7 linked regions of the Homo sapiens genome follow. The protein of the gene in region 1 purifies or fractionates together with the protein of each later gene. This does not show direct contact. Each region holds a gene or a part of one and is shown in the gene's direction. Other genes may lie near its edges.

The links.
Region 2: the proteins of SLC35G3 (region 1) and CDK13 purify together in Homo sapiens (affinity purification with mass spectrometry; one large-scale study listed by BioGRID and IntAct). This does not show direct contact.
Region 3: the proteins of SLC35G3 (region 1) and CDV3 purify together in Homo sapiens (affinity purification with mass spectrometry; one large-scale study listed by BioGRID and IntAct). This does not show direct contact.
Region 4: the proteins of SLC35G3 (region 1) and NSUN2 purify together in Homo sapiens (affinity purification with mass spectrometry; one large-scale study listed by BioGRID and IntAct). This does not show direct contact.
Region 5: the proteins of SLC35G3 (region 1) and CSDE1 purify together in Homo sapiens (affinity purification with mass spectrometry; one large-scale study listed by BioGRID and IntAct). This does not show direct contact.
Region 6: the proteins of SLC35G3 (region 1) and DEK purify together in Homo sapiens (affinity purification with mass spectrometry; one large-scale study listed by BioGRID and IntAct). This does not show direct contact.
Region 7: the proteins of SLC35G3 (region 1) and EPB41L2 purify together in Homo sapiens (affinity purification with mass spectrometry; one large-scale study listed by BioGRID and IntAct). This does not show direct contact.

What each region holds. Positions count from the first base shown.
Region 1 is NC_000017.11:35,192,020-35,195,783, reverse strand, and holds SLC35G3 (solute carrier family 35 member G3), read left to right. Parts: upstream 1-1,390; 5' UTR 1,391-1,476; coding exon 1,477-2,493; 3' UTR 2,494-3,264; downstream 3,265-3,764.
Region 2 is NC_000007.14:40,096,668-40,100,080, forward strand, and holds the end of CDK13 (cyclin-dependent kinase 13), read left to right. Parts: 3' UTR 1-2,913; downstream 2,914-3,413. UniProt on the Homo sapiens protein: Cyclin-dependent kinase which displays CTD kinase activity and is required for RNA splicing.
Region 3 is NC_000003.12:133,583,686-133,587,185, forward strand, and holds part of CDV3 (protein CDV3 homolog), read left to right. Parts: intron 1-316; coding exon 317-465; intron 466-2,877; coding exon 2,878-3,037; intron 3,038-3,473; coding exon of another isoform or gene 3,474-3,489; exon of another isoform or gene 3,490-3,500.
Region 4 is NC_000005.10:6,619,545-6,623,044, reverse strand, and holds part of NSUN2 (RNA cytosine C(5)-methyltransferase NSUN2), read left to right. Parts: intron 1-944; coding exon 945-1,029; intron 1,030-2,746; coding exon 2,747-2,939; intron 2,940-3,500. UniProt on the Homo sapiens protein: RNA cytosine C(5)-methyltransferase that methylates cytosine to 5-methylcytosine (m5C) in various RNAs, such as tRNAs, mRNAs and some long non-coding RNAs (lncRNAs).
Region 5 is NC_000001.11:114,726,985-114,730,484, reverse strand, and holds part of CSDE1 (cold shock domain-containing protein E1), read left to right. Parts: intron 1-62; coding exon 63-227; intron 228-2,664; exon of another isoform or gene 2,665-2,765; intron 2,766-3,394; coding exon 3,395-3,500. UniProt on the Homo sapiens protein: RNA-binding protein involved in translationally coupled mRNA turnover.
Region 6 is NC_000006.12:18,237,031-18,240,530, reverse strand, and holds part of DEK (protein DEK), read left to right. Parts: intron 1-3,014; coding exon 3,015-3,150; intron 3,151-3,500. UniProt on the Homo sapiens protein: Involved in chromatin organization.
Region 7 is NC_000006.12:130,864,246-130,867,745, reverse strand, and holds part of EPB41L2 (band 4.1-like protein 2), read left to right. Parts: intron 1-164; coding exon 165-287; intron 288-2,111; coding exon 2,112-2,210; intron 2,211-3,500. UniProt on the Homo sapiens protein: Required for dynein-dynactin complex and NUMA1 recruitment at the mitotic cell cortex during anaphase.

The sequences.
Region 1 (3,764 bases):
AACCTCGGCCTCCCGAGGTGCCGGGATTGCAGACGGAGTCTCATTCACTCAGTGCTCAATGTTGCCCAGGCTGGAGAGCAGTGGCGTGATCTCGGCTAGCTACAACCTCCACCTCCCAGCCGCCTGCCTTGGCCTCCCAAAGTGCCGAGATTGCAGCCTCTGCCCAGCCGCCACCCCGCCTGGGAAGTGAGGAGCGTCTCCGCCTGGCCGCCCATTGTCTGGGATGTGAGGAGCCCCTCTGCCCGGCTGCCCAGTCTGGGAAGTGAGGAGCGCCTCTTCCCGGCCGCCATCCCATCTAGGAAGTGAGGAGCGCCTCTTCCCGGCCGCCATCCCGTCTAGGAAGTGAGGAGCGTCTCTGCCCGGGGGCCCATCGTCTGAGATGTGGGGAGCGCCTCTGCCTGGCCGCGACCCCATCTGGGAGGTGAGGAGCGTCTCTGCCCGGCCGCCCCATCTGAGAAGTGAGGAGCCCCTCCGCCCCGCAGCTGCCCCATCTGAGAAGTGAGGAGCCCCTCCGCCCGGCAGCCGCCCCGTCTGAGAAGTGAGGAGCCCCTCCACCCGGCAGCCGCCCCGTCTGGGAAGTGAGGAGCTTCTCTGCCCGGCAGCCGCCCCGTCCAGGAGGGAGGTGGGGGGCAGCCCCCGCCGGGCAAGCTGCCCCGTCTGGGAGGGAGGTGGGGGGTCAGCCCCCGCCCGGCCGCTGCCCCGTCCGGGAGGTGGGGGGCACCGCTGCCCGGCCGCCCCTTCTGGGAAGTGAGGAGCCCCTCTGCCCGGCCACCACCCCGTCTGGGAGGTGTACCCAACAGCTCATTGAGAACGGGCCATGATGACGGTGGTGGTTTTGTGGAATAGAAAAGGGGGAAAGGTGGGGAAAAGATAGAGAAATCAGATTGTTGCTGTGTCTGTGTAGAAAGAAGTAGACATGGGAGACTTCATTTTGTTCTGTACTGGGAAGGGTTCTTCTGCCTTGGGATGCTGTTGATCTGTGACCTTGCCCCCAGCCCTGTGCTCTCTGGGGCATGTGCTGTGTCCACTCAGGGTTAAATGGATTAAGGGCGGTGCAAGATGTGCTTTGTTAAACAGATGCTTGAAGGCAGCATGCTCGTTAAGAGTCATCACCACTCCCTAATCTCAAGTACCCAGGGACACAAACACTGCAGAAGGCCGCAGGGTCCTCTGCCTAGGAAAACCAGAGACCTTTGTTCACTTGTTTATCTGCTGACCTTCCCTCCACTATTGTCCTATGACCCTGCCAAATCCCCCTCTGCGAGAAACACCCAAGAATGATCAATAAAAAAAAACAAAAAACAAAAAAAGAAAGAAAAGAAGCAGAGTTGGACTCAGTGGGAAAATAGGCGTGCTACCACCTCAGGAGAGTTCCAGGGAAGAATCCCACCCCCACTCCAATGAGGTCACAATGGCTGGAGCTCTGAGGGGCCCAGGCTCCCTGAGCCAGGAGGAGAGGAGAAAGTCCAAGGAAAGATGGCTGGCAGTCACCCCTATTTCAACCAGCCTGACTCCACACACCCATCGCCGCCCTCCGCTCCACCCAGCCTCCGCTGGTACCAGCGCTGCCAGCCCTCTGATGCCACCAGTGGCCTGCTGGTGGCCCTGCTGGGTGGGGGCCTGCCTGCTGGCTTCGTGGGCCCCCTTTCTCGTATGGCTTACCAGGCTTCCAACCTGCCCTCGCTGGAGCTGCTCATCTGGCGATGCCTCTTCCACCTCCCTATTGCCCTGCTACTTAAACTGCGTGGCGACCCCCTTCTGGGAACTCCTGACATCCGAAGCCGGGCCTTCTTCTGTGCCCTGCTCAACATCCTCAGCATTGGATGTGCCTACAGTGCGGTTCAGGTGGTGCCCGCTGGCAACGCTGCCACTGTTCGCAAAGGTTCTTCCACCGTCTGCTCCGCCGTCCTCACTCTCTGCCTTGAGAGCCAGGGTCTCAGTGGCTACGACTGGTGTGGACTGTTGGGCTGCATCCTAGGACTAATCATCATTGTGGGACCTGGACTCTGGACACTACAGGAGGGGACCACGGGTGTCTACACCGCCCTGGGCTATGTGGAGGCTTTCCTGGGAGGCCTGGCGCTGTCCCTGAGGCTTCTGGTCTATCGTTCTCTGCACTTTCCCCCCTGCCTCCCAACAGTGGCCTTCCTATCTGGCTTGGTGGGGCTGCTGGGCTCTGTGCCAGGCCTCTTTGTGCTGCAGGCCCCCGTGTTGCCCAGTGACCTCCTGAGTTGGAGTTGTGTGGGGGCAGTGGGGATCCTCGCCTTGGTCTCCTTCACATGTGTGGGCTATGCGGTCACCAAGGCCCACCCTGCCCTGGTGTGCGCTGTCCTACATTCCGAGGTGGTTGTGGCCCTTATACTGCAGTATTATATGCTCCATGAGACTGTGGCACCTTCTGACATCGTGGCGGCAGGGGTTGTGCTGGGCAGCATTGCCATCATTACAGCCCAGAACCTCAGCTGTGAGAGGACAGGGAGGGTGGAGGAGTGAGATAGAACTTGGGAGCCCGGGGGTTGGGAGGGACAGGGATAAATAAAGGCAAAGACTGAAGACAAACATGGGAGGAGAAGTGACTGGAAAAGAACTGGTGTGGGAGAGGGATACCTCTCAGAGTCAAGGGTGACTTGGGGACTTGGTGGAGAGGGACTACGTGGAAGACCTGGGGCCAGCCTGGGACCAAGGGATGTGGAGTCCAGGCTGGGTCCTAGAATCAGGGCATAACTAAGGGGTAAAGTCTGAGGAGCAGATCCAAAGGGCTGAGGCAGGGAGGCCGTGGGCCATGGGGAGGACTTCACTCAGCAGCAAAGAGAAGAGCATTGGGGCTGGAGTGTTCCGGCAAAGACAGAGCCAGCAGCTGCGCTGGGGGAGGGAAGCGTGCCTCCCCACCCCTCCCCTCACGGGGAAGGTTTCCTTTCCTCGTGCTTGTGCCCCCCGCTTGGGGTGGTGACGTGACATTGACATCAAACAAGGATTACAGTGAATGTGAAAAAAAAAAAAAAAGATACCTGAATAGACATTTCTATGACATTTTAAAAGCCATGAATTTATTTTGGCACAAATATTTTATCATATGCAGTCACTTCTTTGTAAATGATTTTTTGTAAAGTCATTGGATATAAAAGAGTGATTTTCCTCACCTGAGTACATGAAAAGAAAATGCTGAAATCAATGTATAAATCAAATCATCTGTACTAGCACTGTTAATCTAGAAGAAAGTGGTTGCATAGAGAAGAGTAAGAATGTAGACCAGCTTATTGAAGTAGGAAAAGAAAAAAAAAAGGAGCTTCAGAGGTAGGCTTTGCCTCTTAAAAAAATTAAAAACATAAGTCACTGTGTTGTGCTTGGGAGTTAGCAGCAAAAAAAAAAAAAAAAAATGAAGTCACTGTCTGTGAAAGGAAAAGAAAAAATGAAAAGAGTTTGCATCCATTGAAGTATGCAGAAAAAGAAAACAAGTTTTAAAATAAAATAAAATGAGTATAGTTGGGGGCTTAGCAATGGACATACAGAGTGGAGTAATAGACACCGGAGGCTCCAAAAGGTGGGCAGATGGGTGGGGGATGAGGGATGAAATCCTACCTATTGGGTACAATGTTCACTATTCTGATGATGAGGATGCTATGCAATATGCTTTACCACTACGCAATGTATCCATGCAACAAAACTGCACTTGTACTCCTAAATCCATAAAAATTTAAAATTGTCTTGGCTGAGACCTCTTTTAAAAAATAATAAAATAAAAAAATTAGAGAGAATAGTAAGAG
Region 2 (3,413 bases), on another chromosome or scaffold:
TTATGAACCTTCATTTCAAAACAGTATGTGGGAAGTCCTGTAGTTTGATAAGAGTAAAATTATTTTAAAGAGGATAATTTACCATTTTACTACTATAAAATAAGTTGATATCAGTTGACCATTTTATTTTTTGATGGACTCTTTTTGTTGGGAGAAAGAAATGAATGGAAGAAAAAAATATGTTGCTTTTATTTGAATATTGATTACTAACAACTTATAAACTACATTGCAGGAAATGAAGAAATATTTTGAAATTAGCAAAATAGCAACAGTATTCAAGTATCTGAAATTTTAATATGGTGAGTCTTAGAGCTTTAGACTTTCCTATAAGTGACAGTATCTAAGTTATTCTTAATAGTCACACTTGATAATTCTGCTGACCATAAGCAGCTAACCTACAGTTGAAGATATTTATGTGACATGAATAGCCTGTGTTTTAAAAATTAAATATTTTATATAAAATTGAACTGTGTTTGGATAGTTTTTCTAATCAAACATTTCAGTTATATATTTATGTTGGGAGAGTGGCTGGGAGGACAGGGAAATTGTTGCTTTGACATTGAAAATTTGAACTAGAACTTCTAATATTATCCTTACACAGCACTACTGTGAGACATACTAGTCTTTTATATGTCACTTAGAAGAAAAAATGTTGCCAATTAAGCCACAATACAATGCTAAGACGTCATCAATTGTAAGCTGCATCCCAGATTCAGACATATTATATGAAAATATGTCTTATAATTGATGAAATATGATAGTAAAAAATTTTAATGCTTCCCTTCATAGCATTTAATATTTTAATTCAGTGAATTTGGATTAATAGAACAAAGTTGGGAAATCACTAGTTCTGTAGGTTATAACAGCAGTCATCGCTGAAAATTTGAGTGAAATCTAAAGAACACAAAATATTGCTTAAATTTTTTGGAAAAAAGCAGGTAAGTCAGACTGCAAGTTAAGAAGACAAAAATATAAAAGATTTGACCTGCCAAAAGAAGAAAGTATTTATCTTCTCCCACGTGAAATTCCCTTTTGTATTTACTGACACAGCAGGTTTTTCTGCATGCAACTCAGTATGTTTCCTACGTCTTCATTATTTGTTGGAGAGTTGCAAGTCATTTGTGAAACCTTAAAATGCCAATTTTAAGGAGTTGTCATTTGTGGAATGTGAAATAAGGTAATAATTCTAGCTGTGATTCAGAGCTTTATTCTGTCAGCAAATACATAGTCAGTGCCTACAACATGCCAGGTAGTAATCTAGTCCTTGGGGTACATCAATAACCGTCAACAGTGTTAAATCATACTTTCAGTGTGCTGACAGTGAGCAAGATTTTTTTAAATGTCTGGAGAAGTTAGTGGTATTTGCTACCCTCAGCTGTATCTAAATTGCACTTAAGTGAATGTAGGGCATGAAAATTTGAGTATCTTTTTGAAATTTTAAATTGAAATTTGGATAGAGATGGTTATGGAGAGAAATCAAACAACTGGAATAGCTGTTTGATATCACTTAAAAGTGATAAAATTTTAAGTTGAATCTGGTCAGTTTGCAATGGCCTATTTGTAAGAAATATCAAGACTTCTTGAGAAAAATGAAAAGTGAATACATAAATGCTTAAAATCTGGTACTTCTGAGTTAAGGTTTTGCTCTTTGAGCTTAATCCAATTTGGGATGATTTTTCATCCTAGGGCTTTTTGTTTTCCTTTTTTATTTTTATTTTTTCTTTTTTTAGGGGAAGGGGACTTGCTTTCTTTTCCAAAAAGGTGAATCCTTCTTGTAGGACATAGGTAAAAAAAACAAAGCTGAAATATATGTTTTGAATATAGATAGCTAATTCCCTGGGATATAATATCCTTTCAATTTTTTTTTTTTTTTTGGCCCAGTCTGCCTTTTGATGTTTTAAAAGTCTGAACGAGATGTCCCAGTAACCTAAAATTATCCAGTCGGTCTTCTTACTTTACAACTAAGAAAAATAAGGCTTAGAAAGAGGGATTGCCAGAAACTTTGGCAGCTGGATTGCCTGTGCTTGTTCCTCTAAGCCATACCTAAATTCTGCAGTAAATACTTAACTTTTTAATAGGGAAATTGCTTCAAGATAACTTGACCAGTGATACGGTAAAATAATTAGACTATTGGACTAATGGTTTAACACAAGTGGCTTTAAAAAGTCTGCTTAAAAAACAATTTTTATTTAGAAAAAATAGAAAAATAAAAACATCTTCAAAATTTAGGAGCCTGAAGGGGCTGTTTGTTTCATATATGGATAATCTTTGAAAAGGCAAGTCCTGTATGTATTTTTCATTTGTTGAAAGAAGATTGGTTATCAGTAGGCTTGCAAACATAATTTGCTTTTAAGTTCTTTCAAGGTTTTATGCAATAAAACCTATTGATTTGGAACTTTAAAAAAAAAAACAACAAAAAAATACTTTCAGGGTTTTGTAATTTCAAGTGGTTTTTTAAGGGGAGCAATAGTTTGCCATTTACCAAAGGCTTCTCCAGATAATTTCTTAAATGTTTCTACTTAAAAATAAAAGCTATTAATAATAAGCTGTCATGGGATCCATTTGAAGACAGGGAAAATAGAAAATTTTTATTGTAAAGGGAAGAACTTATCCTTTTAATTTTATGGACTAACAGAGTCTGCAGGTCTTAACTCATTTCAGCCTGTCAAATGTGCAATTAAAAATGAATTTTCTAATTGTATTCAAATGAGGCTCTATAGTGAATACAGAATCACTCTTCTAAGTTTTTTCCCAGTTAATTTGTTTAAAAGTGTTGTACTCTCTTGCAAGAACGTTTAAAAGTTAAGTCTTGTAACTGTTAACATCTAATGTATTAATATAAGCCATTTGTTTTTTACCATTTTTTTAAGGCCGTATTCAATAGTCTGTAAATAAATTGCCGTAACACTCCCAGGCCATTTTTCAGCCTTGTTTGCTTTTTGCTTCTATCCAGAACAGACTTTTTGAAGTAATCTTATCTGATAAAGATGACCACTTGTAATCCACTGTGCCGTTTTTTTGACAAAGGTTAAGATGTGGAATCTTTTTTTTTCTTTTTATAATTAGTACATATTTGGAAATAGGAACACAGAGAAGAACACCCCCAGATAACCACATAATATTTTGCCTTTGATGGATGTATTTGAATGCATATCTTGTTTTTTTTTTTCTTAAAACAATGGGATCATACTGCCCATAGCTTTGTAATTTGAATTTTTTCATTTAATAATATGTTGTGAACATCTCTTGGTATCAGTCAGTTAAATTCTATCCTCTTTCCCCCAGTCTGGAATGCAGTGTCGACATCATGGCTCACTGCAGCCTTGAACTCCTAGGCTCGAGTGATCCTCCTGCCTCAGCCTTCCAAGTAGCTGGGACTACAAGTATGCACCACCATGCCTGGCTAATTTTTT
Region 3 (3,500 bases), on another chromosome or scaffold:
CCCAGTAGCTGGCATTGTAGGTGTGTGCCCCCATGCCTGGCTCATTTTTGTATTTTTAGTACAGATGGGTTTCGCCATGTTGCCCAGCCTGGTCTTGAACACCTGACCTCAGGTGGTGCACCCATCTTGGCCTCCCAAAGTCCTGGGATTACAGGTGTGAGCCACTGTACCTGGCCTCACTTTTTAAATAAGACGTTCAGTCTCGAAAGAGATTGACTTCTTCAGGGTCGTACAGATAATCATGGATAAAACTAACGATTTGGACTGAAAATTTTCTTGGTGATTCCTTAATGAATTTACATCTTTGCTTTTCCAGCAGTGAAAAGGAAGAAGACGATAATGAAAAGAGACAAGATCCAGGTGATAACTGGGAAGAAGGTGGAGGTGGTGGTGGAGGTATGGAAAAATCTTCAGGTCCCTGGAATAAAACAGCTCCAGTACAAGCACCTCCTGCTCCAGTAATTGGTAATTTTACTATTTCAGTTTCAGAAAGATGTCTAATTTATATATGATTTTATATATGGTCCACTTTCAACTAAGTGCATGATTGTGGTAGGGTGAGGAGGAGAGGCTCCTTTCCATTCCTGGTAGAGTGGGATGTGTATATATCTTGTTAAAGACTTTAAAATCCTAAATAAAAGGAATCTGGAAGTTAAAAGACATGCTTTTGTCCTGTATGTTGCTGTAAAATTTATATAGATATAGACTAGTCGATTCCAGTTTCATTTATTGGAATTGAGCATTTCTTCTAATATTCTCGTTAAATATTAACTACTTGCTAATGGAGGAAAAGGTAAGGAAAAGACTTTAATTTACTAGAATCCAAGGTCAGCTTCATTTAGGATTTTTAGTGGTAACTACCCTAGGGTTGGGTTTAACTCCAAAAGTTTTCATGAGAGAGAAAATTCCTAAAGCTTTTATCATTTAAAATATTTTTGACAGCTGAGTAAAGACAGAAAGACAAGGGGCCCTTGTCTTTCACTTGTGCTTTGTCTTTTTCATTCCCTATTTAACTTTCCTGTTCTTTGAAGCATGAATTCTCAGCAGGGCCAATTTTATCATTCTCAAGGTGGTAAAAGTTGCTTCTTATGGAATGAAGGAATCTTATACCTTAACAGTCATTTGTGGCCCACGAAAAGACTAGAATGCATAAACAGATGTATAGTATATCGCAGTATTAAAATTTCATGGAGTGGGGGGCAGTTAGGAAACAGATGTCTGAAAGGTCTCCTTAGGGCAATAATGAAAGTTTAAGAGCACTACTTTAAAGAAGTGTATACTCATTATTTTATTTAGAATGTTATAAAGAATAACATATCACTCCAAATCTTGTTATGCAGAAATCACAGATAACTACTCTATGTTAAATTTTTATTTTTATATTTTTTAGAGACAGGGTTTCACTCTGGCCCAGGCTGGAGAGCAGTCATGCAATCATGGCTCATTGCAGCCCCTCAACTGCTTGGGCTCAAGTGATCCTCCCACCCCAGCCTTCCAAGTAGACTACCGGGGCATGCCACCTGTTTATTTTATTGTAGAGATGAGATCTTAACTATGTTGCCCAGGCTAGTCTTCAACTCCTGGGTTCAAGCAATCCTCCCACCTTAGCTTCCCAAAGTGCTGGGATTGCAGGTGTGAGTCACCACACCCGGTCTTATGTTTTTAAATCATCTTTAGAATCTTTTTGTTTTGTTTGTTTTGTTTGAGACAGAGTCTGGCTCCTGACTTCAAGTGATCTGCCCGCCTCGGCCTCCCAAAGTGCTGGGATTACAGGCGTGAGCCATTGTGCCTGGCTAGAATCTTTTTTTCTTTTTCTTTTTTTTTTTTAAGACAAAGTCTCACTCTCTTGCCCAGGCTGGAGTGCAGTGGCACAATCTTGGGTCACTGCAACCTCCGCCTCCCGGGTTCAAGCTATTCTCCTGCCTCAGCCTCCCAAGTAGCTGGGATTACAGGCGTGCACCACCATGCCCCGCTACATCTTTGTATTTTTAGTAGAGACGGGGTTTCACCATTTTGGCCAGGCTGGTTTTGAACTGCTGACCTCAGGTGATCTGCCTGCCTCGGGCTTCCCGAAGTGCTAGGATTACAGGCTTGAGCCACTGCACCCAGCCCTGGCTAGAATCTTAAAAAATAACCACACTGGCATTTCATTAAAAAATTCTTTACATATGGCATCTTAATCAGTCCACCAATCAGGTAAAGAAGTAATTCATATTTACTGGTAGGGAAACAGGACTAAAGTCCTATTCTGAGAGGCAGTCCCTGATGAGACCAGTCATCCAAGCCCAGCAGATTCCTTTTCTACTTCCAGTAATTTGGCTTGTGGAACTCATCATTTACGTAGATTACTAAAGTTGTACGTGGAGGAGGAGTTAGAATACTACCCTAGAAAAATACAATGTTTTCACTTTTCTTTTTTCTTTTTTGAGAGCCGGAGTCTCCTTCTGTTGCCCAGGCTGGAGTGCAGTGGCTCAATATCGGCTCACTGCAACCTCTGCCTCCTAGGTTCAAGCCATTCTCCTGCCTCAGCCCCCTGAGTAGCTGGGATTACAGGTGCCTGCCATCATGCCCAGCTAAGTTTTGTATTTTTAGTAGAGACAGGGTTTCATCATGTTGGCCCAGCTGGTCTTGAACTCCTGACCCCAGGTGATCCACCCACCTCGGCCTCCCAAAGTGCTGGGATTACAGGCGTGAGCCACCACGCCCAGCCTGTTTTCACTTTCAGACATTTTCTGAAATGAATTCCCTTCTGTGGTCTGACCCAGAGACCCTGGTATTGTTTTTTCTATAATTGTTAAATGATTGGGAATGCAAGAATAGCTTATTAAAATGCTGAGCATTTAAATAGTTTATCTAAAAATTGTTATAAAATATTAGTTACAGAAACCCCAGAACCAGCGATGACTAGTGGTGTGTATAGGCCTCCTGGGGCCAGGTTAACCACAACAAGGAAAACACCACAAGGACCACCAGAAATCTACAGTGATACACAGTTCCCATCCCTGCAGTCAACTGCCAAGCATGTAGAAAGCCGGAAGTAAGTACTATAATTAATTGCATTTTGTTTGGGACTTCTGTTCCTAGGCCAGGGAGTGGGATATAGGGGATGTGCATACCCACCCAAGGGAGAGACTACTCCTTAACTAATAAAGCCTGAGCTTCAGCTGACAGGCAGGTGAGAATCAGGGTGGGACTTCATATGTCCAGAAGGGAGGAAAGGGGGAGGGCAAAGAGCATTGGAGACACTTTGTCTTCTGTCTGCAAAAGTTTATCTTAGCCCTGGTTTATGTTGTTTTATAGCAATGACAAGTTTTAATGTAGTTAAAATTCTTTTATAATTAAGTGGCTTTTGCTCCTTATAATATGGAAACTAGAAATATAAAAGCGCTGTTTAATTGTATTCCCAGTTAATGTGACTATAGACAGAAGATGTTGGCATTTATAAATCTAATATTAAAATAATCTTATTTCAGCAGGTACTTAAAATGAATGCTACCTGG
Region 4 (3,500 bases), on another chromosome or scaffold:
CTTTTTTGTCCTACTTAATTTTTATGGTTTAGAAAATTTTCTCCCCTTTAGTTTTACTGATTTGTTTACCATATGGATTGTCTTCAGTGATGGTGATTGGCTAAATTAGGTTGAAAATGATAGTGAACATGTATTGAGAGCTCATTGTATGGCAAGCATTACTCTGTGCTCTTTTTTCTTTTCTTTTTTTTTTTTTTGAGATGGAGTTTCACTCTTGTTGTCCAGGCTGGAGTGCAGTGGCGCGATCTTGGCTCACTGCAACCTCCGCCTCCTGAGTTCAGGCAATTCTCCTGCCTCAGTCTCCCAAGTAGCCGGGATTACAGGTGCGCACCACCACACCCTGCTAATTTTGTATTTTTAGTAGAGACGGGGTTTCTCCATGTTGGTCAGGCTGGTCTCGAACTCCCGACCTCAGGCGATCCGCCTGCCTTGGCCTTCCAAAGTGCTGGGATTACAGGTGTGAGCCACTGTGCCTGGCCTTGCTCTGTGTTTTTTAGGTGAATTAGTTGGCTTTATCATTCACACAACCCTCTAAGGGCAGATACTGTCACCATCTCCATTTTTCCAGATGAGGAAAAGGAAGCAAGGAGAAGTACTTGAACTGAGGTTACGGAGCTGTTAACTGGCTGAGCTGAGATTTGAGTCTAGGTAGCTCTGTTCCTTAGCATTATGTTTTCATGATTCTTACTTGTTCATCTCTATATTTAGTCTCTCTGGCTTACAGTTTCATTCTCCTCCCATCCTCTTTGGAGACTGTACCTATATCATTCTGTGATTTTGGGGCAGTGTAGAATCCCTAAAAGTAAATTATGTCATGCTATAGACTCTGTAAAGAAGTATATTTAGATCTTGGACTAGAAATTGAAAAACTAGAATTGCTTTAAATTAAATGTAGAATATTTGGTTTTTTAAAAACATGAAACAGTTTCTTGCTTTGTTAATAGATCTTAGATATGTGTGCAGCACCTGGCTCAAAGACCACACAGTTAATTGAAATGCTACATGCCGACATGAATGTCCCCTTTCCAGGTATGCATTGGACTTGTGTTCAAAATGGTAGGAATGCCACTTTGGCAGATTGTAGACAAGGAAAAGACTCTAACTTTGCCTGCTAATTTGGCTCTAAAGTCTCCTATGACAAGCAGTTGGGTTTTCCGTCTACCGGAAGTAGAACTGGACATCTTGCCTACCACCGTCAGTAGTACTCAAACAAACACACTCATACCATGGGGGAGCTTTATTTTAGAATTATGTGTGTTTTCTATAAAAACGAATGGCATTTCTTTTTTTTTTTTTTGAGATGGAGTCTCACTCTGTTGCCCAGGCTGGAGTGCAGTGGCGTGATGTTGGCTCACTGCAAGTTCCACCTCCTGGGTTCACGCCATTCTCCTGCCTCAGCCTCTCGAGTAGCTGGGACTACAGGTGCCCGCCACCATGCCCGGGTAATTTTTTGTATTTTTAGTAGAGACGGGGTTTCACCATGTTAGCCAGGATGGTCTCGATCTCCTGACCTCGTGATCCGCCCGCCTTGGCCTCCCAAAGTGCTGGGATTACAGGTGTGAGCCACCACGCCCGGCTGCAGATGGTGTTTCTTTATCAAGCCTACTTACAGAAGATAGATTTCACTGTTTGAATTTTTAGTAACAATTTCCCCTTTCCCCCACCTTTGTTCATTATTATTACTATTATTATTATTATTATTACTTACTGCCTTACATGAAGGGTAGTAGTGTGTAGTTAAAAGCTACCATCAGACTCCCTGGGTTCAAATCCTAATCGGCAAGTTACTTACAGTGTTAGACATCCCATGTGAAATGGGACGAATCAGTATGTAGCTTGCGAGGTGCTCAGGAAATGTTAGCTGTTATAGTGACACCACGCCCCTTTCTCTTAAGTGGAAACAAATACCCATCGTGATGTTTTAGAGTCAGCTTTCATCTCGTCCTATCTTTGTTCAGGCAAACTTCTCTAGTTCTGTTTTAATAGGCATATTTGTTAGGTCTGTTTTTTGAAATCCTCTTTTTTACATTGTTTAAAGATAATGCCTTGGCTAAAAAGCCTGCTTCACTTTTCCCTGTTTTTAGTTGTTTTCTCCACATTGGCAGTAAAGAGCCTTGGCGTCCCAGTAGCAGCAGGTTCTCCTTTTTGTATTGTGGATGTTTTGCATTTCATACTGTTGTGAAGAGTGGCTTTGATCATACATGTTGTTGGTATATTTGCCTTTTTGCTGGGGGTGTGAGAAGAACCAGAGATGAGCAGAGGTACACCCAGTAGACTTCCCAGCCTGCAGAGCCTCCCGGGAAGAGCTTCCGTGTTCAGGTGCTTGGGGCCCCACCCTAGGAGCCTGACTCACAGTCAGAGCAGGGTCCCGGCTTGTGTTCAGGATTTTGAAACATTTGTAAGGTGATTTTGTTGTTTCTACACCTTTCTCCTCATCTTTTTTTTTTGTAGTTAATCGTTACTAATAACAGAAAAGACATTTTTGGCATGGTAATTGGCACAAAGTGAATAATTGTTGAATAGATGACTTTTGAGGCTTTCAAAATTCGAGTGTCCATAAAATCCATCCAGAGCCACCTGGTTCCTTTTTTTGAACCACTTAACGTAATTCTGGAAAACCTTGACTGTGGGTCTTAAGTTTGGTGGATTGCTGCTTCTCACTGGCTGACCTTTGGAGGTCGCATATTTCAGGATGTGATTCCACTTAGGCTCCATTTCACCTGACACTGCAATTCTGTGCCTTCAGAGGGATTTGTTATTGCGAATGATGTGGACAACAAGCGCTGCTACCTGCTCGTCCATCAAGCCAAGAGGCTGAGCAGCCCCTGCATCATGGTGGTCAACCATGATGCCTCCAGCATACCCAGGCTCCAGATAGATGTGGACGGCAGGAAAGAGATCCTCTTCTATGATCGAATTTTATGTGATGTCCCTTGCAGGTATTTATCTTATTGGCCAAAAAGCCCAAATCCACTAAAGAAATCAAGTCAAATAGAGACTAAAATGAAGTTGTGCATGAATATGACACAATTGTACATAAGTCTTGGGGTGCGGAGAAAGATAGCGTGAGCCTAAACCAAAAGATGGACACGTAGATACGTCTTAATGAGAAGCAGCACAGCAGATGCTGGATAAAGAACAGAAAGGGGTGGTTGCAATAGCCTGCAGAAAGATAAAGAGAAAACAAAACAAAACAGAGAAAATACGTAAGAGGAAAATAGAATCGTAGACTCTTATTGTGGTGTGTTTTAGGATGTTATTGCTTGGAACAATTTGTGCACCCCAACTATTTTGTATTAGTTCTTCCAGTGAGTACAGTATATAAAAAACTTTGTCATAAAATAATACGTAATCACATTGGATTTTATGTTATTTAGTTGAATGAAAGAAATTTCGGAGTTCAAGCCCTTAAGAAATTCATTTTGCTTGTGTTTTTATACCTTTCTTGAGATAATACATCAACATTTTAGATATTTAGAGTTTAGATATAAAATAATACT
Region 5 (3,500 bases), on another chromosome or scaffold:
GGGAGGTGTTTCTTGATGCTTTCTTTTTCAATTGAAAGTTAATTTTGTTTTATCATTTTTAGGATATGCTCTCTGCTCAAAGAAATCATGCTATTAGGATTAAAAAACTTCCCAAGGGCACGGTTTCATTTCATTCCCATTCAGATCACCGTTTTCTGGGCACGGTAGAAAAAGAAGCCACTTTTTCCAATCCTAAAACCACTAGCCCAAATAAAGGCAAAGAGAAGGTAGGTTTTGCATAATCCAAATGATTTTTGTAGCTGTTTATTTCTCTTCTGCTTTAACAGCACATAGTAATAGAGTACATATAATCAGCGGAAGTTTGTCTCTTTCAGAATTTCTGTCATATTAACAGTGAACTAAACAAAGTAAGGTTTCTTAACCTTGGGATTATTGACATTTTGGGATGAATGATTCTTTACTGTGGGGGATGGGATGTTTAGCAGCATTTCTGGCCTCTACCCACTGGAAGTTAGTATTCTGACCCCTTTTCCCTGCCTCCCATTGTGACAGCCAAAAATGTGTCCAGACATTGCCAAATGTCCCCTGGGAGGCAAACTCATTCCAAGTAGAGAACTAGTTATATAAAATGATAGTACTGTCTTCCAGGCAATTTAAAACTTTCAAAGTTGGGTGTATCCTCAGTTCACACATTTAAATTTCATTTATTGAAAAATCCACTAAATAGGAAATAGAAAGATGTCTGAGATGAATTCTCCTTTCAAGTTAATAACAAATTGAGAGTTTTATAGAAACAAGTAATTCATATAGAATATAAAATATTGCTATTGAAGGTCAGCGATAGTGCTCTGGTGAAAATTAACTGGTAGGGTATGTGATGGTTTTACTAACAGATGGAGACAGGAAAGAGCATTCTTCACAGAGTAAAAGTATAGATGAGAAAAATTCAGGGTTTCTTTAGGAAGCAATGAGTAACTAGTCCGACAGGAATTTTTTTTTTTTTTTTTTTGGTTTTGTGTGTGGGTTTTTGTTGGTGAGGGAGGTTAGGAGAAATAAGGATGAAAAATCAGGATCCAGCTAGACTGGGAGGGTGTTGATTGCTGCTCTAAAGAATTTAGACCTTATTGTCAGGTGCGGTGGCTCACACCTGTAAACCCAGCACTTTGGGAGGCTGAGGCGGGCGGATCACGAGGTCAGGAGATTGAGACCATCCTGGCTAACATGGTGAAACCCCATCTCTACTAAAAATACAAAAAAATTAGCCGGGCATAGTAGTGGGCACCTGTAATCCCAGCTACTCGGGAGGCTGAGGCAGGAGAATGGCGTGAACCCAGGAGGCAGAGCTTTTAGTGAGCTGAGATGGCGCCATTGCACTCCATCCTGGGCGACTGAGTGAGACTCCGTCTCCAAAAAAAAAATTTAGACCTTGTTCTGTACTTCAAGGAAAAGATTTCTTTTGGATAATGACATCAGGTATGTGCTTTGGGAGAGTAATGGCAGCAATATGAAGCCTAGATGGGATGGAGAAAGACAAAAGATGAAAAGGATTACTATGAAATTACTTGGATAGTTAAGGTAGTCCTTGAACTAGGCACACAGATAGTGACTATAGACAAGTGAAGGTACATGAGAGATACTGGAAAGTCATGTTATAATTTAATAATTGCTATTAGCCAGAAAGAGCAAGGCTAGTATCTTGCTTATCACTTACTGTAGCTTGGGAAATTATTTCACCTCTGAGCTTCAGTTTTTAAATTTCAAAAATGATTGTGTAATAGTTTAAAAAGCCCTCGAAGTACCTAGCTCATAATAGGAATTTCGCATGTGACAGATGATACTGTTAACAAAAATAAAAATACACTTCAGTTGGGCTTATTTTTAATAACTTTTAATTCTTGGAATGCTCTGCTTCCCAAATGTGTCTGGCAAAACTGGCTTGATGAAGAGAGCCTTTGTGTGAGACTTTCCCTGCCATTTTTTGTTTTTTTTTCTTTCTTAGTCCAACAGTACCCTAGTAAATCCTCTGTCATCATGCTTCTTACAGTATATAACATTTACCTGTTAATGAATCTGTCTCTGCTGCACTGGACTCCCTCAGGGCAGGGATTCTCCTATCTCTATTTAATATATTTGATGTATAGTATATTGTCAGCTGTTGATGTTGAAGTTGGTGAGTTAAGAGCAAAAGGTGAACAGTAAGCTTTTGAGTTTGGTTGTGGAAAAGTTGATGACATTGGAGTCAGACCTGAGTTCACTGACATTGTTCTTAACCAAACTCAAATCCTCTGGATTATTTTGCGCTGGGTTTTGTAACCTTGGTAAGGTTTACTTAATTCCTCAGATTTCCCCAATTTGTAAAATGAGGGAAAAGAGAAACTATGGAGATGATTTTGTACAAGATTAATTTGATAATACATAATACCTGGTAATGTTGTAAGTGTTCAATAAATTATTATATAGCAGTTATGGAAGGAATGTGATTGGTAGAAGAGGAAAATGAATTGGTTTTGAATATATCGTAGTTTGTAATGAGGACTGGAGTTTAGGAAGGAAGTCAGGGCTAGAGTAGGGACATGGGCATTATCTTCATAGAAATGTTGAAACCATAAAATCAGTATAATTTATGTAGTTGCTGTACACTGTCATTACTTAACGGTGTGATTCAATACGACACACCTGAACTTTCTTAGACTTTTATTTTTTTAGTCAAGTGCAGTAGTGAGAAGGGGGGAAAGAGGAGAACAAGGAAGTTCGATCTGTAACTGACTGAACAATCGAGATAACCCACTACCTTCAGACCAGCCCTTAGATTTTTTAAGAGTTAATCATTCTTACACGTACGATGACTGAAATGTTGTTTCTCCTTGAAGTCTGGTATTAAAAAAAATTGTTGAAATACTAGTATGTCATAATTTTTAATCATCTACTTTATGTCAAGTACTTGAACTGTGCTAGATCATACACCAAATTATCCTGCATTGTTAAGTATATTGATTGACATTATATATTAAATACTGTGCAAGGTGCTGTGTGCTACTAAAAGAGGATACTTCAGCAGCTTCTTTAGGAAATACTAAAGCTTCTTGCCCTTATAGAATTTCCACTTCCTTGGAAGTAACATGCCCAGTTTAATTTCTGATTGGCTATGAGGAGCGCAGGTGTATTAAACATTTTCAGTAAGCTTTTTTCTCCTCAATAGCAAAAATTAGATTCTTAAGATTGAAAGACCAATTAAAAATTACAGCAGACTGAGCTAGGCTTAAGGCAAGACTACCTTTTATTCATATGAATAATCTTTTAGAAAATGCTGGAATAAGACATTTTTACAGCTGTACCAATCCTTTGGCACAAGAATATGTAAGAACTATAGTTGTTTTTATTGGTTTTTGTTCTTGAGATTGTTTTCATTCTGTTTTTGACTGTATCTCTTTAGGAGGCTGAGGATGGCATTATTGCTTATGATGACTGTGGGGTGAAACTGACTATTGCTTTTCAAGCCAAGGATGTGGAAGGATCTACTTCTCCTCAAATAGGAGATA
Region 6 (3,500 bases), on another chromosome or scaffold:
TTTTCATCTGTTAATGTATCTACTCCCCATAAAACCATAGGAACTATTGTTTCTTTTGTTTTGTAAATGAGACAAGGGCCCAGAGATGTACTGGGGCTGGAATTTGAAACCAGGCAGCTTGCTGCTAGAGCCTGTACTCTTTGAACTATTATGTCGTATATTTTTCTTTAGTGCTTGTGCAGTATATTTGCAGTCTTTTAGAAATTTTAATAGATGACAGGCCTGGTTGTCCGTTTAGAAAAACTGTAGAACATTATCCTTTACAGCAGATATGAAATGTAGAAAGATGTGGTTTTGTTATACAGAAGTAAGATTTTATGGAGATGGCTTGTTATTTATTATTATAAATGTTTATGCTTTGACAAACTGTCACTACTCACAATTTGCAGGTTTTAAAATGATGTCATGTTGTGTATCACATCTAAAATTTTAATGGCAAGCCTTAAAAGGCTTTGGAAGTATTTTAGTTATCTAATTCTGATTTTCTAATTTGAATGGAGATTGAGTAATTATTGATGATATTGTTTCTTTTGCTCAACCTTCAACCCTTTCAGTAATAACTTACTTTCTTGTACCTGCAAGTCCAGATTTTATTACCGTTTAACTAAAAAATGATATATAATCATGATTATTGTATTCTGTGTATTAAGTGTGCTAAAGAACTTAAGAATTTTTAGGATTCCCTTTCAGAGCCTAATATATAGTTCACATGAACTGGGTGGACACTTAATGAACCTTAAAACTTAGTTTAAGTTCGTCATAAAAAAACGACAAATCATTGATACTTGTCCCATAGCCCCACACCATCTAGAACATCTCTTAGGATTAGGAAGTAAGTTAAAATGGCCTGTAAATCGCAAAAGTCCATGGGAAATTCATGTACTTACTTTTAGAAGCATGTCAGCCCCTTGACACCTTAAAAATGTATTTTTTAGTAGCAGTTAAACTACATGCTTCCCAGCCAGTGGTATATTGTTGAGGTAGTGCAGGGTGATGATAGGCTTGTATAAATAGGTACAGTGATGGTATATTAGCAAAAAGAAAGACAAACACTAAAATCCAGCCAGGTGAGGTGGTGTGTGCCTGTAGTCCCAACTACTCAGGAGCCTGAGGTGGGAGGATTGTTTGAGTCTAGCATGGGTAACATAGCGAGACCATCTCTTTTTTTTAAAAAAAAAAAAAAAAAAAAAAAGACACTAAAATCCAATGAATAGCTTGAGGCCACTTTTGGAACAGATTGATGTGTATACTTTAATCTAAAGGATAGGTTCAACACAGTGCTTATGTCTTTAAAAACAGGTTGACTTGGCCGGGCACAGTGGCTCACGGCTGTAATCCCAGCACTTTGAGAGACCAAAGTGAGTGGATCACCTGAGGTCGGGAGTTCCTGACCAGCCTGGCCAACATGGAGAAACCCCGTCTCTACTAAAAATACAAAAGTAGCCGGGTGTGGTGGCGCATGCCTGTAATCCCAGCTACTCAAGAGGCTGAGGCAGGAGAATCACTTGAACCCGGGAGGCAGAGGTTGCGGTGAGCCGAGATCATGCCATTGCACTCCTGCTCCTGCCTGGGCAACAAGAGCGAGACTCCATCTCAAAAAAAAAAACCAGGTTGCTTTAGGATAACTCTCAGGAATCAAGAGTGTTAAACATTTGGAGAAACGTTCTGTCAAGTGATCGCAGTAGTTTTAGTGTGTAAATGGGAGAATTTAAAATATCTTGGAATGTTTAATAGGAAGCTTTTCCTTTGGGAACATTAATTAAACTAAGAATTAATGCTTTCTAATTTCACAGGCTCCACATGAGACAAAGTATGAACTCTGATTTTGTCTTTTTTTTTTTTTTTTTGAGACAGTCTCTCTCCTGGAGTGCAGTGTCATGATCTCCACTCACTGCAACCTCCATCTCCAGGGTTCAAGCAATTCTCTTGCCTCAGCCTCCTGAGTAGCTGAGACTACAGGTGCCCACCACCACACCCAGCTAATTTTTGTATTTTTAGGAGAGACAGTGTTTCACCATGTTGACCAGGATGGTCTCAGTCTCTTGATCTCATGATCCGCCCGCCTTGACCTCCCAAAGTGCTGGAATTACAGGCATGAGCCACCATGCCTGGCCTGTCATTTTAATCTATCCATATTTATGTATTTTGTTTGTGTCTAATCACCTATGGGTTAGTGTTTAAGAACACAAGTTCTGGAGTCACATCTATATTTGAATCTTGCATGTTTATTAATGTGACTGTGGACAAGGTAACCACACTGAGCCTTAGTTTCCTCATATAGTCATAAGTATTTATTGAGCAACTACTGTATACCAGAGACTATTTTAGGAGTTAGGGAAACATCAGTGAACACAAGATTCTAGGCCAGGTGTGGTGGCTCATGCCTGTAATCCCAGCACTTTGGGAGGCCAAGGCAGGCAGATCATCTGAGGTCAGGAGTTCAAGACCAGCCTGGCCAACATGGCAAAACCTCATCTCTACTAAAAATACAAAAATTAGCCGGGTGTGGTGGCGAGCACCTGTAATCCCAGCTACTAGGGAGGCAGAGACAGGAGAATTCGCTTGAACCCGGGAGGGCAGAGGTTGCAGTGAACCAAGATCGGGCCACTGCACTCCAGCCAGGGTGACGCAGCAAGACTCTGTCTCAAAAAAAAAAAAAAAAAAAAAAAAGATTCCAGTTGAAAGAGAGAGAACATAAATAAGAGAAGATAATATTATCTATATTTAGGGGTCCCCCCCAAGATTAAGTAGAGTAATGCATATGTAGTTTATCCATAGTGTTGAATAAATATGGGCAACTCTTGTGTGTGTGTGATTGTGATTTGTCATGCTTAGACTTGTGTTGGGATAAAATTGTTGTATATTAGTCATCTCTCAAAAAGAATTTTTAATTGCTGATACCAAATATATTGGTTTTCTCTAATATTATTAAGGGGCATAGGGGAAGTAGAGGGATGGGATGGGATAGCATTGAATCTCATCAATATGTGTACTTTTACTTTCTTTTGTAACAGCCACCAAAAAAGACAGCCAAAAGAGAAAAACCTAAACAGAAAGCTACTTCTAAAAGTAAAAAATCTGTGAAAAGTGCCAATGTTAAGAAAGCAGATAGCAGCACCACCAAGAAGAATCAAAACAGTTCCAAAAAAGGTATGTTAGAAATAACATTAATCAGCAACTTTAAAGATATAGCATATATTAATATGTTGTACATAGTATTTAAGTGTGTGGGAGAAACAGGTAAACTGCAGAGAACATTGCGGGGAGAAGTAATACAGGTTGAATATCCCTTATCTGAAATGCTTGGGACAGGAAGTGATTCAGATTTTGCAATATATATATATAGAGAGAGAGACAGAGAGAGAGATATCTTGGGGATGGGACCCAGTCTAAACATGAAATTCATTCATGTTTCATATTCATCTTAAATAGCCTGAAGGTAGTTTAATATTTTAACTAAATAAATTATTTATTGCAGTGGTGCCGTTACAGCTCACTGT
Region 7 (3,500 bases), on another chromosome or scaffold:
TCTTTTATTTCTTTTGTTTGTTTTAGGTTGTTTGCTTTTACTCTTTTCTTTTGTGCATGAGTGTGTGTTTGGATATGTTTCTTACTATTATTTGTGAAGGTTCCATTAAACACTTTTACTTTATTACCTCTAGAATTTATTTTTCCCTTCCTTTTCCACCTCAGCCACCAGTGGTAAAAACAGAGATGGTAACAATTTCTGATGCCTCACAAAGGACAGAAATCTCCACCAAGGAAGTCCCCATTGTCCAAACTGAGACCAAAACCATCACATATGAGTCTCCACAGGTACAAAAGCTCTAGACTTGGACTGTTCGAGCTCTTTTTTCCCTTAGTGTATCTATGTTTTCATTCTTTCTTCTCTTAGTTTACATGTTTCTGGCTTTGATGTAGCTTTTTGTATCTGCACTTTGTAAGTGTACTTCAACAACATAATTTGCTATGTTCTCTTAGATTGAGACAGAGAGCTGCAATTAAATTGGTAACCCAGTAATTATAGGGGAACTGTACATATGATTATTTAGGACAGACAGTATCAATCTTGTTCATATGATTGAAAGCCATTTCTGAGTTGACATATCTAAGAATGTTTGTGTACACTTAGGAAACAAATTGTCTTGCAAAGTTTATCTGATATAATTCATCGATTAATAATAATCCGATCTAATTGTGGATGTGATTTAGGCTTCTTTCCCTCTCTAACTCCGTGAAGATTGACCCAATCAACTCATTCTTGCTTGTAATAACACACATACACACACACACACACACAAACACACACAGGCACACACACCTGTGCTTCTCCTTCGTGTGGAATTATTTTCTAAAGACCTATGTAGTCATTCATATGTGAATGGTGATACCATGTGTCTAAATAATTATCAGATTTGTGTGTTTGATTTTAGGTTTTCACACATTGGTTCTGTAAAGATTTGGAATAAGCATTAAGATGTTTAACCTTAAGAATAACAAAAAAAGATAAAGCATTCATGATTTCAAAATAGAATATAAAATAAATATTTTCTCCACTTAGAAGATGAACCTTCTGTGGTAGAATTGTATCATGGTGGAGGATGTCAGGTTATTGACCTCTCAGAATATTTTTTAAAAGGTTTAATGCATGCATGTGTGAAACACATCTGAAAATTATTTTGGATATGGCATCCTTGTGTGTGCCTTGATCCCACATAAGCACAAATAGGTTTCTTATGAACAGCTTGGCGGGGGAGCATTAGTGATGTGTCTGTGCTGTGATAAGTTGCCAGAATGAAGACATACAGGTGCATGACCCAAGTTTGAAAGAGATTTCCTCTTACAGTCAGAAAGGCTCTGGACCGTCCAGTTATTTCCTCGTGTCAGTGTCAGGAAACAGAGGGCAAATATGTTTCGTGATCTTAACATAAACTGTTAGGCTATTAATTTGCTTCATTGATTCCCCTTGGAAACTCTAGAATCTTCTGCATCTTTCAATATCAAAGCAAACAAGTTAAAATCTATTTTAACATATGTATGGGATTTATATATATGTAGGAGCACATGCGTATGTGCAGTATTGAAATATATGTGCCCGTATATATGCTCACAACATGCAAACTATTACAGGAACAATGTAGTTGATGAAAACAATCGCTAGAGGTAAGCAGATAACCAAATCATGCAGATTCAGTTTGTCCTGGTCAGGTTCTGTTGCTTGGTAATTTGATAAAATGTTTATCTATTTTTACCCACCTGTGCTTAAAAAACAACAAACTCAGCGCTTCTGGTCACTGTGGAAACTTCTCTGCCTGGCTCTCTAGTTTCATTTTCTAGCTTGTGCAAAAGTCCTTCAGACAAATTCTGTCATAATTCCCTTGTAGCTTTCAGTCCCACCTACTATGTCCATTCTCCTCTCTTTTCTCCACTCACACAGTTGAGTTTGCTTCTCCATGTGCACCTAGCCTTTTGCCTCTACTCGGTTTCAAATACCAGCCGCTCTCCTGGATGGTAATTACTACTGCAAACACGCAAACCACATGGATTTTAAAAGATGCATATTCGATGGGGCGGGGATCTTCTCTGACAACATAACAGAAGTTAAGCATTACTTTGTATTTTTCCCCCAACTATCCAAAGATTGATGGCGGGGCTGGTGGTGATTCGGGCACGTTACTGACCGCACAAACCATCACATCTGAGTCCGTGTCAACAACGACAACCACACACATCACCAAGGTAAAGCAATGCAGGGGATCATATGGAGAGGATGGTACATTACAGACAGAATCTTTTCTGAATTGTTTCTCTCTTCCTGTACACACTTCCAAGTAAGATACAGACAGTGCCAGCGGAATCAAAATGCCTTGGTTTAAAGTATCCAAGAAATTAGGCTCCATTGACAAATGCATTCAAGCCAAATTGCAATTTTGTGAAGTACAAGGGGGTAAAAATATGTTACGAATAGCTATATGTAAGATAGCTACAAAACCATAAATAATTTAATAAAATTTATAATTTATAAAAACAAACTTGTGCTTCTACTTTTATTAAACCAGCCCTCCTGACTAAAGCGAATGAATGAAGGCCATCATTCAGAATTTTCAGCAAGTTGTTCAAATAATGTAGAATTTCCCTCATTTAAGATCGCTAGTATACTGATTTGGGGCATTCCCCTGTTCCTCCCTGCATAATTCTCTAAATGTTTAGCACTGGGTAACCAGTCATCCCTGGATCAGCAGCATCAGCTTCACCCGGGGCATTGTTAGAAGTATAAATAGCGTGGCCCCACTCCAGTCCTCCTGAAACCTTAGAATTGTCTTAAGAAGCTTCCAGTGATTCTGATGCATGCTGAAGTCATCAGCTTTCTAACTCCAGCCTTATTTTCCACTATTTCCTTCTTCTGTTTTTTACTTTGGATAAGTGTCTAAAGGTCTTAAAGGTGTCCCTTGTGCCCTTCCCAACCCATGTTTCAACAACAATTTAAAAAACAGCAAAAGTAATTTGTAAATTTAAAAATGCCGCATAAATGCAAGGTACTGTTGGTGCTCATTTTAAAGCATATCCAGTTATTAAGCATAGTGATAAGCCTGGTTTGTTATGGTAAAATGCTGTCACTTGTGACTGAGAGTGTACATTTATCAGAGTTGTAAATGTTGGATGTGCGCTTTCCCAGGACCGTGTGGTATTTGCTTATTGACTGTTTAGAAGGTCACAGCCAGATGATCTCCTCAGCCTCATCCAGTGTGCCCCAGGCACTCGCAGCTTGTACGGAGCCCATAACGCTGTGAGGCAGTTCCCCCAGGAGCTCCCTCCTCCAGCCCCGCTCGCAGCCTTTGTCTAGCCATGCGCCATGTCTACGTGTATGACTACTTACGCAGGGTGTCATCAAATCAAACATTCAACAAAAATCTCATCCATCTTCCGTATCTGAAACCAAAGCAAATCCTTTTTAAAATTATTGCACTAAATGCAATAAACAAAATCAGCAAATAAATTTGTATGCTCAGAATCCATCAGTCAAAACCA